Linked DNA regions of Homo sapiens. The protein of the gene in region 1 purifies or fractionates together with the protein of each later gene. This does not show direct contact. Each region holds a gene or a part of one and is shown in the gene's direction. Other genes may lie near its edges.

What was found.
Region 2: the proteins of ISL1 (region 1) and BCL9L purify together in Homo sapiens (affinity purification with mass spectrometry, with the first as the bait; one large-scale study listed by BioGRID). This does not show direct contact.

Annotation. Positions count from the first base shown.
Region 1 is NC_000005.10:51,381,594-51,387,295, forward strand, and holds the start of ISL1 (insulin gene enhancer protein ISL-1), read left to right. Parts: upstream 1-1,854; 5' UTR 1,855-2,078; coding exon 2,079-2,106; intron 2,107-2,947; coding exon 2,948-3,137; intron 3,138-4,595; exon of another isoform or gene 4,596-5,007; coding exon of another isoform or gene 5,008-5,033; intron 5,034-5,702. UniProt on the Homo sapiens protein: DNA-binding transcriptional activator. Recognizes and binds to the consensus octamer binding site 5'-ATAATTAA-3' in promoter of target genes. Plays a fundamental role in the gene regulatory network essential for retinal ganglion cell (RGC) differentiation.
Region 2 is NC_000011.10:118,908,110-118,913,096, reverse strand, and holds part of BCL9L (B-cell CLL/lymphoma 9-like protein), read left to right. Parts: intron 1-2,309; exon of another isoform or gene 2,310-2,389; intron 2,390-2,554; exon of another isoform or gene 2,555-3,081; coding exon of another isoform or gene 3,082-3,157; coding exon 3,158-3,183; intron 3,184-3,207; exon of another isoform or gene 3,208-4,086; coding exon of another isoform or gene 4,087-4,157; intron 4,158-4,441; coding exon 4,442-4,827; intron 4,828-4,987. UniProt on the Homo sapiens protein: Transcriptional regulator that acts as an activator. Promotes beta-catenin transcriptional activity. Plays a role in tumorigenesis. Enhances the neoplastic transforming activity of CTNNB1.

The DNA of each region.
Region 1 (5,702 bases):
ATCAGCTTTGCAAAAGCAGCCTGACAAAAGGCTCCATACATCTAATACCAGAGACTAGAAACAGACCAAAAAAAAAAAAAAAAAAAAACACACACCACACAACTGGTAAACTTATCAACCTAGGTCTATCCAACTTTCGCTTTCATACACGCGCTCTAAAACAACTTATAATAAAAATGGAAGGGAAGACAGATCCAATTTGAAATCCTCCTTGAGAAAAAACAAATCAAAACTAGTTCCTGGGGAAGAAAGCCTCAGCTAGGTCAGGAGGAAACTTACGCATCTTTGATTCCCTTTCCGCTTTGGAGAGGCATTACCCGTTCAAGCCCAGCCAATGCGGCCGGCCAGGATTTACAGCTCTTATCAAGGGTTAGATTTTGCGAAAGATATAAAGAAAGGAGTTTCCTAACACACCGGGTCTTCTCACAGCAACAAGACACCGAAATTAAGCCTTCTATGGTTTGTGTCTGTAGGACTTTTTAGATAAAACTGGCAGCCCCATTAGATAAGAAATGGCTTTTTAGAAGCTTTGGGGGAAGCGCGGGGGTTCTTCGTGGCCTTCCTGTGACTGTCTTTGGGAGACCGTAACAGATGATGGGAACATGTAAGAATGATTGAAGAAGGTTACCGGCGAGTTGCACCTAACAGTCTTCTCTCTCCAAGTAGTTTCTCGAGAGAAAATTATATATTAACGCCTGGGGACGTGAAATAGGTCTTTCACTGTTCTGTAATAAATCCCTCCCTACTCGCGCCCTTAGACTAATGCATTTTTAAAAAATCTCCACAAAGTCATGGAGACTTGTCCTTATAATTACCAAAATACCACAGCTAGTTGCACAAGTTTGCTTAAAAACAAAGGGCAGGAGACCAGCAGTGAGAAGAATTGAACAGTATATAAAAATCTTACAAACTTTAGACTACTGAAAGATCATTTCGCTCTTTGGCTTCGGGTTAGTGAGCTTCAATTCTAGAGTTAAACTGAGAAGCAGACCTCGCGGGTCTGAAAGACAAAAAGTCAGTCCGCGGAGTCAACTTCGGTTTACCGGTGCGTTCCAACCTGATTGTCCCAACAGCAAGAAGCGCCCCTTTCCTCCCACCCAACGTTTTTAGATATCTGAGGTTGGGGGAGACGGAGTAATGGTGTAGCAGTCAGGAAACAGTTCCTCTGGGTTTAATCATCCCATTCCCGATTCTTCTTCCCCTAGCGCGCCGAGCGCAGCCAGTTCTGGAGGAACTAGCCCTCCGGAGCAGCCAAGGCAGGCCAGGCCCCGGGGATGTGCACCACGGCGTGGGGACCAAACCAAGCTGAACGGCCTGCTCCAAGTTCCCCCCTTTTCCTAGAGCCCGGGAGGGACCTCGTCAACAGGTAGACCTACCCACCAGCCACTCGCCACCGGCGGCAGAAAGTGAGCCCCGCGCGCAACGCGGCCAGCCGGACTGCGGGGACCCCAGGAGCGCAGGGCGGAGGAGCAGCGCCACAGGAGGCGAGGGCGCAGGCGGCGCGGCCGGGAAGGAACGCGGGAGGGGACAGAAGGAAGAGGAAGAGGAGGAGAGGGAGGCCAGAGCCAGAACAGCCCGGCAGCCCGAGCTTCGGGGGAGAACGGCCTGAGCCCCGAGCAAGTTGCCTCGGGAGCCCTAATCCTCTCCCGCTGGCTCGCCGAGCGGTCAGTGGCGCTCAGCGGCGGCGAGGCTGAAATATGATAATCAGAACAGCTGCGCCGCGCGCCCTGCAGCCAATGGGCGCGGCGCTCGCCTGACGTCCCCGCGCGCTGCGTCAGACCAATGGCGATGGAGCTGAGTTGGAGCAGAGAAGTTTGAGTAAGAGATAAGGAAGAGAGGTGCCCGAGCCGCGCCGAGTCTGCCGCCGCCGCAGCGCCTCCGCTCCGCCAACTCCGCCGGCTTAAATTGGACTCCTAGATCCGCGAGGGCGCGGCGCAGCCGAGCAGCGGCTCTTTCAGCATTGGCAACCCCAGGGGCCAATATTTCCCACTTAGCCACAGCTCCAGCATCCTCTCTGTGGGCTGTTCACCAACTGTACAACCACCATTTCACTGTGGACATTACTCCCTCTTACAGATATGGGAGACATGGGAGATCCACCAAAAAGTAAGAGGCTATTTTACCTTGTGGGGCTCGGTGTGCTGTTCTTGTGCGGGGTTCTCTCTCAGGCACAGGCTGAGGTGCCAAGGGCTCTTTGGAGTTGGAGTCATTGCCTGGAGAAAGAGAAAAGGTGGCTTTTTCTTGTTGCCGCCACGCCTGCATGCTTACTGTCGGTTCTTATCTTCGGGAAACTGATTGTACCTTGTGTGTGAATTCGCCTGTGTGCCCTCCAAAGCTCTAGCTTTCTGGTGCTAAGCGGTGATTTCCTCCTGGGGAATCCTGAGCTCTCCGAGAAGGTTATTATGTTGCAAAGGTCTGCCTGCACAGTCAATGCCCAGAGATGTGAATTAGCATTAGACTTGCAAAAGAGAACGAGTGACAACTGTATTTATGCCTGCTCTTGCTAACAATATCCAGTCCTGTGTGCTATTTAAGAGCGCGCTTCACGGAAAATATAGACATCCCTGCGTTCACTTAACGCTTCTAGTCAAAACCTTTTCTTTGACTTGACTTATCCATAATCTTTCCCAATGATTATAGCAAAGAGGAAGGGGGGGGGGAGAAATACAAAATGAGCGGGTTTGATTGCGTGCTAGGCGTACAAATGTAGACTATTCCAATCTGCATTTTACATATATTCCACCTCCTTTTAAAAATGAGTCAAGGTTTTGATGGCACATTTCAATTACCATCCCAAAGTGCAATGCTCTAAAAAAAAAAAAAAAGAAAGAAAGAAAGAAAGAAAAAAACCTCCCAGAGTACGCCCTATAAGAGAACGACACTAAAAGTGTGTTTATCTCTGTAGGAAGTAAACGGTTAGTCAATCATGTATTTATTTTCATTTCAGAAAAACGTCTGATTTCCCTATGTGTTGGTTGCGGCAATCAGATTCACGATCAGTATATTCTGAGGGTTTCTCCGGATTTGGAATGGCATGCGGCATGTTTGAAATGTGCGGAGTGTAATCAGTATTTGGACGAGAGCTGTACATGCTTTGTTAGGGATGGGAAAACCTACTGTAAAAGAGATTATATCAGGTATGGCATTTACACTTCTTTCTTAATTTTGTGGGATTTCCCTGAATCTCCCCACTCTTTATGTATTATTTGGTGTGGCTTTGTCTTTTTGTGAAGTTTGCCTCAGTGTAGTCATACAAGCCAAAGTTACCCTGTACATGTGTTAAAAAAATCAAGCTATGCTGTTCATTTCATTCTTTAGTTGAGAAAAACAAAAACCCTTAACAGTGGTATTCATAATTCCGGGGTATTGAGGCTTGTTTAATTACTCTTGGAGTTTATGATGCACAAATTATTTTCCTCTTTCACCCTCCCCCTTACAAAACAAAATTTTAAAAAGATGGAGAAGTTTGGATTTTTAGCTTTAAAATAGGGTTGATTTTTGTTGTATAGTGCAGTGTTCTGTTTGTTTTAGTCCTTTTTAAAATTAGTAGCTTACAAATTCTTTGGTGGCATCAATGCAATAGGTGAAATAAAAGTTTGACCGAAGCATGTTTAGAGATGTACTTTGAAAGAGCGAGTACAGGTATTGCTCCTTTTATTTTTGGGGTAAGACCTCCTTCTGAGAAAAATTTAAAACCAACCTAAATATTCCTTGGAAAAAACACCGGAAACTTAATCTTTTTAAATATTAACCCTTTGGTGACATCTAACTGTCTCTTCTTTCTTATCTTATCTGAGCTGATGAATTAGAGCAGATCAAATTGCCCATCATCTGTCTACGAACAATTGGTATATTTAGATAATTGAACAGCTTCCTTTCTCACATTAAAATCTGGTAACTGATAAAATGAGCGAATTGTCCAAATTGACAAGACTGAAACAACATAGGAACTTTCTGAGTTTGGTTTTGTTGTTTTGGAGAGTTTTTGTTTTTTTTTTCCTCCAATTTATTCTGCAACACGTTTTGCTAATCTCAAGTTTCCTCTGACTTGTGTGTATGTATCAGAAACTTTGTTTTCTGCCTTAGAAAGCCAGTAGTCTCTAAAGAAAATTGTATTCATTTTATTAACAAACAGAAGAGACATCAGCATCATTATTATGTTAAATAATAGCAAAATATCACTTTTTAAATGTCCGGTGGCTATTAACAAGTAATTAATTAGCTTTTGTTAGGCAAATGGTTTCTGGAGCTTGAGAACTTTTATTAAAGTTTAGTTAAGATTTAATATACAGTCACAGTTTGCTCCTGCTCACTTAGTATCCAGCATTTTTTTCTTCTTTTTTAAAAATCATGACACAGAGAGTATAATCTTGGTAGATAAAATTAACCTGGTTGGGGGAGGTTAATACTTCGGAGAGGGAGTGAAAGGAAGTAAGGGAAGTCGGGGTACAGGAAGGGGGAGGGATTTTCTAAATTGTTTGGTCACCGCCAAAGTCAAGTCTTCACCCTATGAAATGGAAGATCTCACATTGAGTAGGCGGAGGGAGGAAAAACTTTTGAGTCCACCTTCTAACCTCTGACAAATGAGCGTTTTCATTGTTTACTAGATTGGTGTGTAAACGCAAGATTCTAGAGAAGGAGAGCCCACTTCAGGAGTATCTTTACTGCTATGGAAATAGTATTTTGCTCAATTGCACACAGGCTTGCATGTGCCTAATTCTGGATACACACATGTGTAGAAGGAACTAATCATTTTTACCTTCTCTTCACTCTCTCTCAACTCTGTGTGTGTGTGTGTGTGTGTGTGTGTGTGTGTGTGTAATCTTGTAGTTGTAAAAGCAGAACAGACTGGACAGTTAGATTTCCACATCTCTCCTTGGAGAAGCAGGATGCCTCCTCCTGTTATGTGGATCTTTTCCTCTCTCTTCCATTCTTTCTGTTCGTAGGAATGCCCCAGCTTCTGTTATTCCTGAAAGATGGAGAAGGGGCCAGGGAAGTGCAGCCTAGATGGAACCTATAAAGATTGTCCCTTGGTAAGGAAAGGCCAGGAGTGAGAAAGACCTTAGAAGCGGGTCTTTGCATTTTTTTCATTCTGGTCATGGTTTTCAAGAAAATTGAAATGAGGTAGATGATTCAGCAACTTGAAAAAGATTGAGGGAACAGACGCAGATTTTTTTAAAAAAATAATAATACAAGGAAGAATGGAGAGGAAATTTTCTGTTAACATTGCTGCCTGAAGAAAATCTTTAGTTGGAGAAAGACTGGAAAGTACTTGTGCAAAAGGAGATGTGGAAACTCTCAGAGGTTTCATTTTGTTATTCTGCTTGTTTATTTGTGAGTGTTTGCAAACCGAGTGGGGTGACAATCCCCTTCTCCTACCTCCTTTTTTCTTGGAAGGAGGACTTTTTGTTGCAGTTTTAGACATTTCTAGCAGCAGAAATTGTGGGATAGGGAAGTGAAAGTGTTGGTGTCGGTGGCCACCAGAGTCTTTCTGGATTCCTTCCTGCCAAGATCTGCAAGATCAACACTGGGATTGATTGCTAGAGCAGCAGCCCGAGTTTGGAACCCATCAATACATTTTCTGTGGTACAAGCTAGGTGTTTTGAGCTAAGAGTTACCAACTAAGACAGAGGTTCATCGGAAAGGAAACGGGAGTAAAAGAAAGGGAGGAGGGAGGGAGGGGAAAAGAGAGATGGGGGAAG
Region 2 (4,987 bases), on another chromosome or scaffold:
TCGAGGGTCCCAGAGCAGCACCTTGGTCCTTGAGCAGATTTCCTGCTGGGCTACGAATCCTTGACCTCCCTGCCCGCTGAGTCACCACCTCAGGAAGAGGAAGTGACCTGAGTGGTGGAGAGAGCTTCTGAGGACTGAGGGGTCCTGACACCCAGGAGAAAGGGGATTTGGGACCCTGTCGTCTCGGGCGCTGTATCTCCCTGAGCCAGAGGCCAAGGATCTCGTTCGCCCTGTTGTCCCCAGCAGGGTCCTGGGCTTTCACGTCATCACAGGGGGCCCTGGCAGCTCAGGAGCATGAACCCTCCAAAACATTTCCTCACTGCCTCTTTGGGGTGGTTTTGAGCTAGGCAGTGACACTGCTGGGCCAGCTGGTGAGCCAAGCAGAGGCTCCCAACGTGGGGGCAGCTAGGAGCAGGCAGGTTGCCACTGGATGTGTGAACGCCTGCCCTACCTGTGGTAGTTGTGTGTGGAGCAGAGCCGGTGTGTCATACCTGGAGGCTCTGGGCATCTGAGCCTTCCTCAGCTCCCTCCCCCAGCTAGGATCAAGTCCACTTTAACCCTTAGCAACCCTTAGGCTGCTAGCTCCTACCCTCGCGTCACTCGGGGTGGGGGAGCGGATGGATATCTCAGGCCCTTTGTCAAGCCGCCTCTTCCGCTCCTCCGATTCATTCTCCTGGTATGCGCCTGGCCTTCCACTCAGGTGACTCGCACCTGCTCCCTGTTTGTGAGCTTGCTACCCCTCCCCACCTAACCCCCTAAGAGGGAGGCACGGTGACGTGTTCCCAGAGCCCCATCCCTTTGCTTTCTCGTACCTCAAGGGCCCCTGGCCTGGTACTAGCAAGCCCCCTTCACTGGGTGCTTTAAAATTGCATTGGGCTGGGATCAGCCCTCTTGGCTTCCCATCACCAGGCCTTCCAGGTGTCTTCGGAGACTGTGAGTGTGTGGAGGAGGAGGGGTCTTCGGGAGCTGGGGCAGACTCTTGAGGGGCAAAGGGGGGAGGTGTGAGATGGGAAAGTCCTGACTCATCCACGCTTGACTCAGCTCGCCCTGCGGCGGGGTGGGAGAGAGGGGGTGGAGTCCCGGAGGGGAGGGTGACTGGAAGAGTCTTCTGGGGAGGAGCCTAGGCCTGAACGGCCACTGGAGAGGACTGATTTTCTAATAGCCCCTTCCCAAATTCTTACAGGTTCTCAATTTTTGAGGCTGTGAACATAGGTAGTGAGTGGCCCTTGCCCTGCCCCTCCCCCCTTATGGGGGACCTGGGCACTGTGGCTGGAATGTGGGAAGCCCAACTATCTGATGCAGGCTCAGAGGAGCAGTCATGGCTGGCGTGGGGAGGTGGGGTCACTGCAGTGTCTGGAATGAGGGTCCGTCCCCACACTGCCACATACTGGATATGTGACTCAAGGTCACGCCACTTCCTTTTCCCAGACCTCAGTTTCCTCGTTGAAATGGGGTCGATCCTTTTGAGAATCAGCGAGCTGGTGAAGGGAGAGCCTGAGATGCATGCCAGCCAGGAGCCTGCTCAGAGCCCTGGTATCTCAGTGACTCCAGCCTCTGCCTCTGCTCTTCCCTGGTTGTGATGGAGAAGCTGGGGGTGGCGGGCTGCTTCCCAGGCAGGTCCTGGACTTTGGAACCTTCCCCCAGGAGCCTTCCTCCCCAGAGACACGGCTGGAGTGGCGAAGGCCAATGTGCCCTAGGGTTAAGTTGGGGTTAGACTCCCGCAGGGTGGCAGGTGGGGCCCCCTCACCCCCAGGTCCCCGCCCAGCCTCCAGCAGCCCCGCAGGGAGCATCAGGAGTGTGCACCGGTGTCTGGCCGGGCCTGTCACCGGGACGAAGCTCCTGGGCCCAAGACTCCTCCCCTTTGACCGGGATCGGCTGCTGGAGGGCTGCTGGAGGGCGGGTAGGGGAGGCGAGGGGGGAGCCAGGGCTGGGGGCGGTTGGGTGAGGCCTCTGTGTTTGTGTAAGTCTGTTGCTGTATCTATGGCCCTGTGCGTGTTTCTTTGTGACTACCAGGCTCAACTTTCTTCGGCTCTCTTGTGGCCGGCCTCAGTCTTTTCATCTGTTCAATGGGTCCGGCGCTCCCACTCAGCCCTCGGGCAGCCCCGGTGTCTGCGCGTGCCCCAGGCTGTCTCCGCGCCTCCCGCTCCGGCGGCGCTTCCCTGGCCTCGGCGCGCCTCTAGCTTCCTGGGCTCCGTGCGTGTCTTGTCTCCCTGTCCACGTGTGAGCTGTGAGTGTGTGTGAGTCAGAGTTCGGGTGTCTGTGGGTCTCTGAGCCTCTGCTGGCAGCACCCGGGGCTCGCCAAGCTCTTGCCGGCTGGCGCGCGCCCAGCCCCTGGCGGGACTTGTCCGTGTGTCTGTCCGCGCGCGGGGCCTGGAGAAGCACGCTGCAGTCCTGTCCGCCTCCCGCTCGCTGCCTCGCTGGCTGTCGCTCGCTCGCTCTGCCTCTCCGCCCGGGCTCTGCCGAAGGGGGCGGGGTGGGGGTGCAGGGCGGGGGGAGGGGAGGCTCCTGCATTCTTGCGGTCGGGGAGGAATCCGAGCCAGCGTTACTGGTCTCCAGAAGAGCCCAGCTGCAGCCCCGGGGCCCCGCCAGGCCTCTCGCTGCCCGCCCGGGCCTGCTGGGATGGGCACGGGCTAGGCCTCGAGCTGGGGACGGGGCGGGGCGTGGCCCCAACCCCGGGCCCCCTCCACGGCTGGAGCGCTCTGGGGGTGGGGCACGAGGGGTACCCCACCCTGGGTGAGGGGCGCGTCTGGGAGCAGGAATCCCTCAGGGGGCCAGGGGAGACCTCACAGCCGCCCCACACGGCACCTTTGCTACCTAGCCTTTTAGTGAATTCTGTCTCTGCCGCCCGTCGGGGCGGAGGCTTGCTGGAGACTGCAAGCCCCCTGAGGGCAAGGTGCGGGAGGGATGGGGACAGGGCTGGCCTCCAGGATCGAGACCCCATCTCGTAATCCTCTTTTTCCAGTGCCACCCCACCCTATCCAGCTCCCTAGTCCCAGGGCTGTTGGGTCCTCCCTTCTCCCCTCCCCCTCTGACACCCCCTCCCCAAGTCACGAGTTTTCTCTTTGGGGCTTGTTGCTGCAGTCCGTGCTCCAGTACCGAGTACCTGGCTGGGCCCTGGGCACGCACAGGGGCCGTAGCCCCACTGTGTGTGGGAGCCATGAGGATCCTGGCTAACAAGACAAGGTGTGTGGGTGTCGTGGCGGGTGGGATGTGTGTGTGTGGAGTGCGGGAAGGGAAGGGCCCAGTGGTGATGGGGCCCAAGCTGTGCTGGCCAGGAGAGGAGCCGCCCTGGGCACCTGGCTCCCAGGCCACCAGTGGGCTAAAGGGGGGTTAGCATGGGAAGGCCTGGCCCGAGGCAGGAGGCGCAGCCAGCCTTAGTGCCTGGGCCTGGGTGGGGGGCAGAGGGGACTGGCAGCCAGCTATGCTTGCGGCTTCTGGTCCCTTCTAGTTCTTCCCTCCTTAAAATGGTTTGAGCAGACCCCCTCCCACCCTACTGTGGGGTCCGAAGGCCGCCTCTGGCCTCAGTCTAGCTGGAGGTGGGAGCTGGAGTAGGGGGCGGTGCCTGCCTCCCTCCCCCCTCCCCGGAGAAGCCGGCAGACAGGGCCAGGCGGCAGCAGCAGGACAGCAGAGCTGAAATAAATCTGAGCTGGTGTGGAATGAGGGGGGATAAATATCCTCTCCCGTGATGTGATCTTTCCAGCGGCTATTAATAGGTCTCCGGGGAGGGGGAGGCGGCGGGGGGAGCGGGCTGGAGCTTAAAGGGCCCGCAGCCTAGGCTGCAGGAATCCTTGGCTTCAAGCTACACTCCCCATCTGCTTGACACACCGCTCCCCTCCCCCTTTCCTCCTGCTTCTGCCTGCCGGCCTGGCCTGCCAAGCCCCCCTCCTCAGGCCTTCCCCTCCAGCTGTCTGGACCAGTGGGTAGCACTCCCTGGTGTGCGTTTTCCCACTGTCCCTGGGGAATGAGACCCGGGCATGTGCAGTGACCCCAGGTCCTGTGGCCCTTCTCTGCTGGTGTTGGGACATATGGGAGTTGAGGTTTGAGACCTTGGAAGGAGTCTGAAGACAGCAGATCTTAGAAGAGAGGATGCTTAAGTCTGATACAGAGGACAGGGTTGCCACAGAAGCTTGCAGGCTGATGGGTGTTTTGGGGCTGAGGTGGGTGAATTCTGCCAACTCTAGGCCCTGGTTTCCATTCAAATTGTGGAGGCTAGGGGGTGGAGGGTTTCCCCATCTCCACTCCCCAAGGTGGATGAGGGCTTCAGCCCTTGTCTGAGGAAGCCATGGAGGGAGGTAGAGAATAGCTGGTGGTGGTCTTGAGATACCACCCCTTCCCCCCACCCTCCCCCATTGTTAGGGGAGGCAGGATGGGGTAATTAAGTTGCAGGCATGCCTAGCCCCTAGCAAGGTTAACTTTTCACATTTCTCCCACCTCCTCCCAGGTTACCCCACCCCAGGAGGAGAGAAGCTCCAGGGAGCCCGCCGCTGTCCCCCCGCGGTCATTGCCCCCCTGCCCCAGCCAAGCCAATGCACCCAGAAAATAAATTGACCAATCATGGCAAGACAGGGAATGGCGGGGCCCAATCTCAGCACCAGAATGTGAACCAAGGACCCACCTGCAACGTGGGCTCGAAGGGCGTGGGGGCGGGGAACCATGGGGCCAAGGCCAACCAGATCTCGCCTAGCAACTCAAGTCTGAAGAACCCCCAGGCAGGGGTGCCCCCTTTCAGCTCGCTCAAGGGCAAGGTGAAGAGGGACCGGAGTGTGTCTGTGGACTCTGGAGAGCAGCGAGAGGCTGGGACCCCATCCCTGGATTCAGAGGCCAAAGGTACCCCATTTCCTCATCCCTAAGACCCTAGCATCTCCCATAGTCCAAGGCTCAGATGTTCTGGGAGATCACCTCTCTGCTCCCTGCTTGTCCAGTCCTCATCCCACGTTCTTCTCCAGTATTTCTGCATGGGTACCTTTCAACACCCACCAACCAGATC